Linked DNA regions of Homo sapiens. The protein of the gene in region 2 purifies or fractionates together with the protein of the main gene of each other region. This does not show direct contact. Each region holds a gene or a part of one and is shown on either strand. Other genes may lie near its edges.

Evidence for each region. Proteins that work in one complex are often made in the same cells at the same time.
Region 1: the proteins of FZD6 (region 2) and POPDC2 purify together in Homo sapiens (co-immunoprecipitation; one large-scale study listed by IntAct). This does not show direct contact.

The regions. Positions count from the first base shown.
Region 1 is NC_000003.12:119,643,590-119,647,089, forward strand, and holds part of POPDC2 (popeye domain-containing protein 2), read right to left. Parts: intron 1-3,500. UniProt on the Homo sapiens protein: Important for the maintenance of cardiac function.
Region 2 is NC_000008.11:103,326,398-103,329,897, reverse strand, and holds part of FZD6 (frizzled-6 isoform a precursor), read right to left. Parts: intron 1,631-3,500; coding exon 1,482-1,630; intron 244-1,481; coding exon 1-243. UniProt on the Homo sapiens protein: Receptor for Wnt proteins.

The DNA.
Region 1 (3,500 bases), on a different chromosome or scaffold from region 2:
ACAGCAACCCGGTAAGGTAGACAGAGCCATCTTGGTCCTGTCCTGCAGATGAGGAACATGTTCTTGATGGCAGGTGAGTGGCAAGACTAGAGTCCAGATCTTAGAAACACAGAATCCTAGAGTTAGAAGTTACCCTGACACAATAATCCAAGGCATCCTTTTCCCAGAGCATGAATCACCTTATAAAATCCCTGAGATTTCTTATGGCCCCTGCTTGAACTCTTCCAGTGATGAGTAACTCTCACCACCCATGAGCAATCCAGTATCAATACTGAGCTAAAATCCTTCTTATAACTTTCAGCCTATTCAATTCAATTTCTGCCCACAAGAACTACACCAAATTAAGTCAAATTCTAATTTACATTCTTTCTAAAATTTGAAGATATTACACTTGCCCTTTTCTTGCAGATAAAACATTTTCAGTTCTTTCAACTACTTATCATGTGATTACCTAGAACCATGCCTAAAATATATAGTAAATAGTGTTTATTGAATCGTTTCTCTTGCCCTTGGTACTATGTCCTGATCCTCCTGTCGAGGGGCTCCTTCCCTTACCTCGAGTGTCCTCAATTTTGTAATCTGTTCATCATTTGCTTATTTAAATAATAGGGAGAAAAGAAACAGTATAGTTTTCAGAACAATGTGAAACAAAATAAAAATTGTCCAAATGTCAGACAGCTTTCAATTTATTTTGTGATAATGGATTCATTATTTCACTCAACAGACTACCTCGGAGCTGCATTTCTAGAAGATAAGTCCCTCATTCATTGAGCATCTCCTGTAATAAGACACAGAATGGATCCCTGTGGAGAGTGGCCATCGAATTAAACAGAAAAATTCTAGTGAAGGGAGGGATGATTTGGGGTCTGGCTGGAAGACCCTGCATGAATACATTATCCTGCAGCATAGTTTTGCCTATTAAGAGAAGCAGCACCCATTTTTTGTTCAATTTTGGGTACCACCAGACTAAAAAACATATGTCTCTTCAAAAAGGAGCTCCAGAGGAAACTCTGACTATTTTCAGTTGGTCTTAATTTGGATTGGTGTGAGAGACAAGCACTGGTGTCAATGTGATGAGGCTGTGTCATTCCTAATGATGCAGAATTCAGCCAGCTTCATGCCTCTCATATAAGTGCTGTGCCGGGATGAATAGCAATGAGCTTAACATTTTGATAACTAAAGAGCCAGGAAATAGATGGTGAATGGTGCCCTACTTTATGAAAGAAATAATAGTAAATTGCTCCCAATTAAGGGAATATGCTTATTCATTAGAGTAATAACCTTATAGCAAGTTTGATGGTAAATAAGTCAAATCAAACATTCAAAACACAATTTCAGAAAAAGAACTGAGGCTAAATTATCCCATGATCACAGACTACATTGAAAACTATCAGAAGTTTGGCTAATTTGATCATGTTTTCAAGTTGTTCTGAAAACCTCTATGGCCTGAAAAGTAAACGACATAAGTTTCCTTTCTCTCTATTGCTTAAACAAAGAAACATGAAAAACTATTCTCCCTATATTGCAAATTCCGGTATTTTAGAAAGTGAGCCTCATCAGCAGTTTTCTCATCTTGAGTTTTAGAAAAGGCTGAATTTGGAAAGAGGCATTTCATACGATAGTATGTATTAAGGGTTGAGGGCTTGGGGACTGAGTTGTGATCTCCTCTCTCATAAAATATCCGCACTGTAGGCCGGGCGCAGTGGCTCACGCCCGTAATCCCAGCACTTTGGGAGCCCGAGGCGGGCGGATCACCACGTCAGGAGATGGAGACCATCCTGGCTAACACGGTGAAACCCTGTCTCTACTAAAAATAGAAAAAATTAGCCAGGCACGGTGGCGGGCGCCTATAGTCCCAGCTACTCGGGAGGCTGAGGCAGGAGAATGGCGGTGAACCCGGGAGGCGGAGCTTGCAGTGAGCCGAGATCGCGCCACTGCGCTGCAGCCTGGGTGACAAAGCGAGACTCCGTCTCAAACAAAAAAAAAAAAAAAAAGAAAGAAAAAGAAAAGGAAAAGGAAAAAAAAATCTGCACTGTAATCACATGGTAGGTGATAGATTCTTCACAGGCATAGAATGGAGGGAACTGCTAGTTAAACAAGACCCACCACCACAAGGGCTGAGGAGAGTCCCAAGGTGCCAGAGAAATTGTAGTGAAATATCACAGAGAGTTCTTGCTGAAAGACACTCAGATGTCCTGGGGCTTGTGTCTACTGTACTGCGGACTGACTACTCCTCTTTTCTTCCTTTGAAAAACTTATCCTTGCCTTCTCAGATCAATCCAAGGGGGTTCCTGGGGACAGCTGGTCCAACACGCTCAAATGAAGAAAGTAAGGTTTAGTGAGGTATGGTTTGCAAAAAGTCACATATTTGATTAGTAGCAAAGCCAGACATAGAAGCCAGGACTTTGGACTCCCAGTCCTGGCCTCTTTCTCATTTACCATGCTGCCTGCCTCCTGATGTTTGGAAAACATTCCTAAAGCTGGGGATTTTACACCTTCACTTGAATGGTTTTCTTTATAGGCAGAGGGAAAAGTACTGATCTTTGGAAGAGTTAGGATTAAAAACTAATAAGATGGGGGTACAGGGTGTTTAGGAGGAAGAATAGATACAGCAAGGCAAAAAAGGTGGGAAAAAGAAAAAAGGAGGTAATAGGAGAGATAAATATATGAACAATAAAATGGAAGAAAACAAGAGACAAGTGAAGAGGGAGAAATGAACTGAGAAGACATAGAAAATGGACACTTAAGAGCAGCAAACTGGCCAGGCATGGTGGCTCATGCCTGTAATCCTAACACTTCGGGAGACCAAGGCAGGAGGATTATTTGAGCCCAGGAGTTCGAGAACAACCTGGGCAACATGGGGAGAGTTTGTCTCTACAAAAAAATTTAAAAATTAAACATTATCCAGGCACAGCGACATGTGCCTGTAATCCCTGTTACTTGGGAGGCTGGGATGGGAGGATCGCTTGAGCTTTTGGAGGTAGAGATTGCAGTGAGCCGACATCATGCCACTGCACTCCATCCTGAGTGACAGAGTGAGACCCTGTCTCAAGAAAGAAAAGGAAAAAAGAACAGAACATCAAACTGAGGCAATCAAGGACTGAGAAGAAATTGGAGAAGAAAGAAGAGAAAAATAGAACCAAGAAAAGAGAAGAAAACCAGGAAGAACAACATGAGAAAACAGAGAGCTGCTGTGAGTCGAAGAGAGAGTGTATAGGTGGATGGGCAAGTTGGACCAAGAGGGATCCATAGGACATAAGGAGCATGCGTGGATGCAGGATGAACGAGTAGGAAGGCGAACAGCTGCACAGAGGGAAAGGAGTGATCAGAGTTGTCAATGCACACTTCGGGGAACTCAACAAAGTGATCTGGGGTGTTAGATTGATCCTTGGAATTACCTCAGAATGAGCTGAACTATGGTTCTAAGGATGCTGGTAACACAGGAGATTGTAAATTCCATATCTACAAAACTAAATCTCTAACCTTTCATCAGTCATCTC
Region 2 (3,500 bases):
GTTTCTGGTGAGGTTTGGATTTCTGTCAAAGTTTCTTGTCCTAGGTAATCATGGCTAGTAATTGCTACTGCAGAAGTGCCATGATTTGCTGTAGCTCCTGTGCTGGTTCCCATGGATTTGGAAATGACCTTCAGCTTGTGTGAACTTGGTTTATAGTGCTTCTTTTTGTGTTTAACTTTAGAATTGTGCTTTAAGAAAAACTCACATGATTCCTGTAGTACTCTTCGACTTTCACTGATTGGACTATAAGAAAATTGAAGGAGAGGATTTACTCAAATTAGAAGTGTGGCTATAAAGTAGAGGATATAAAGGATATCACATATCTTTTGCCAAAAATCCTTAGTCACTAAAGTTGAAAATTCTATGGTTTATATTATAAAATCTGGGATTATAAATACTAGGACATAAACTGATTTTATAAAATCTTTTGTGTATACACTCTAAGTTGCTTTTGTCAGTATAAATAGTAAACTGGCAAGAAATTAAGGCAAGAATCAAAGGATGAGGGCAAGGAGGCTCAAAACAGCATAAACGTACTATACATAATACTGTATTTGTATAATATATAAATATGTAATATAAAAGTAAACCAGAAGAAAAGGATAGAGAATATAATTAACGGTCTTCATTTAAATATAAGTCTTTTCTTTCTAACGTTAAAAATTAGCAAGTTACACTGAAATTAGTGTGAGTATATAAATATGAGATAGACATATAATAATAGTGCAAAAAAATCCAGTTGAATACGATTCTTCAGACTTCAGAAACTTATTTGTGAAATGGTCTACAGTTCTGAAATGAGTTAAGCAAACCAATGGGGAACAATTTTTAAAAAGCTATAGTACCTTGTATATAGTGTGTGTGCATATATATATATATATATAAAACTAAAATGAATTACTCATAAATATAAATCAATTTTGTTATAGAATATTCCATAAGTTTGAATTTTAACATCTTAAGTAAGACAAATAAGTGAAAGTTTAGGTCATAGCTGTGTGTAATAAGATTTAAAGTTAGTAAATAATGACCATAACACATCACTTATATTTGAATCATACTTTATAGGTTTCTTTATATATACTTAAGTCTTAATCTTTTATCCTTGATAAAAAGGATAAAATTATTTAAAATGCTGTACCCAAAATAATGAATCCAATGACAGCAGTAATAATACTGGATATACTATAAATCATGAAAAGAAAATATGCCTTTCATAAATCATTCATTCATATTTCAAATAGAATAGTATATGTCACAGACATATACTATATGATAAATAGTATATGTCAAAGACTATTGTAACAAATGCAAAAATAAAGCACGTCTCTTTCATAAAAAAAATTTCCAAACTTCAGTTGGCAAATCAAATTGAAATAATAGTTGATATAATGAAACTCTAGTACATTGATTTGAACAGTTCCTTGGTATTTTGATCTATTTATTTAAAAATTGTGTCAGACAATTCAATAGTTTCTTACTCTCTCTTGCGATTTCGTTTAAAAAACCCAGCCCATTCTGTGCATGTCTTTTTGCTTCCAACCCAGAAGACAGCAGAGATGCCAACAATTAATGTCATCAGGTATTTTATCATAAATAAAGCCAATTCTGGTCGAGCTTTTGCTTTTGCCTACAAAAAATAGTGAATAATAATATTTTCAGTGATGCACTTAAAGTGGAAAGAAGTCTATATTGTCAATATAAAACGAACAAAAGTTATAAATCTTCAACTGTTTTACTAAAAAGGTTTGAAATAATATAATGAAGCATGCTCTAAGTGCAACACATTTTTTATCTAAATGCTGAACAAAGAAACTTTATGTACCAAATCTCTAGAAAGGGGAAAATACTGAAATATATTTAAGAATAATCTCCTAAATCTTGGCATGATTTCCTCGCATTTTTTTCTCGATAGATACAGTAGCCTCTTATAATTGCCAGAATATTTGCCTCTAAATATGTACCTATTTTCCCCCACTATAATCTACCACAAAAATACATTTAAACTCATCATAACAAATATTTTACAGCTTTTATACGTTATTAATATTTATATTATAAAAACTTGGTTAAAGTAAATTAAGTATCAGTAAAATGCGAAAATTTCCTAAGAATTGAAATTATACTTTTTATTCAGGCATAAACTTTGAAATTCTAACCTTAAACATTGCACAAGGGTCACGATATTACATACTCTGCATTTCTTGCCTTTTTTACTTACTAATATTTCTTGGAGACCATTCTGTATCAATACAAATAGAGCTCTTTATTTCTTTTATTTTTTATTTTATTTTTATTTTTTGAGATGGAGTCTCACTCTGTCACCCAGGCTGGAGTGCAGTGGCGTGATCTCAGCTCACTACAACCTCCGCCTCCCGCGTTCAAGCAATTCTCCCGCCTCAGCCTCCCAAGTAGCTGGGACTACAAGTGTACGCCACCATGCCTGGCTAATTTTTTTGTATTTTAGTAGAGACAGGGTTTTACCATGTTGCCCAGGCTGGTCTTGAACTCTTGAGCTCAGGCAATCCGCCCTCCTCAGCCTCCCAAAATGCTAGGATTACAGGCGTAAGCCACCGCACCCGGCCAGAGCTCTTTATTCTTTGTAAAGGCTGTTGCATTGTGTGAGTGAACCATAACTTATTCTACTATCCCTGTTAATAGATACTTACTTCCAATCTATTGTCATTTGCAAATAATGTTGTAGTGACTATCTTGGTATTATTTAATTTCTCATATTTGTAAGCAAATCTGTCTATAAATTCCCAGAAGGGCAGTATCAGTGTACACACATTATACATCTGTACATACCGCGAAATTGCTTCAACAGAAGGTTGAACTAACTCTTAATAGCAAAGTCTGAAAATATGTATTTTGCTATTTATTGTTTCACCACACAGTGGTTAGAACACCTTTAAGATGTTTGCCGTATCATACATGGAAATATAATTTAATTTTAATTTTACATTTATTTTACTATAACTTTTTCACATGTTTAAGAATAGTTTTTTCATTTTTATTTCCTGTGAACCTTTTTCCTACTCTTTTCTCATTTTTATATCAGATGGATGGTTTTTTTCTTATTGATCTGTAGCAACTCTTTATAAATTAGAGAAATTAGCCTTTCAGCTATGATGTCATATGCAAATAAACTTTCCCAGTTAGTCTTTTGACATTGATTATGGATTGTTTGTTTGTTTTTTTTTGTCACGCAGAATCTTTAAAAAAATTTTTTTTTACTTAGTCAAATTTAGCAATCTTTTATAATTTCTACAACTACAGGAATATTATATCCTTCTCCACTTGAAGATTATAATTTTCTAATTCTATTATATTTTACAGTTTCTTACATAAAACATAATAACTACAGATCTTAAACTTGAAAACCATAGATCTTAAACTTTTTAATAATATGTAATAGTTTCCTCTCCCCAACCTTGCCAAAAAGACTGAGGAAACTAGGAGTCATTATTAATATAGCAGGATCACTTTAAGACACAGCC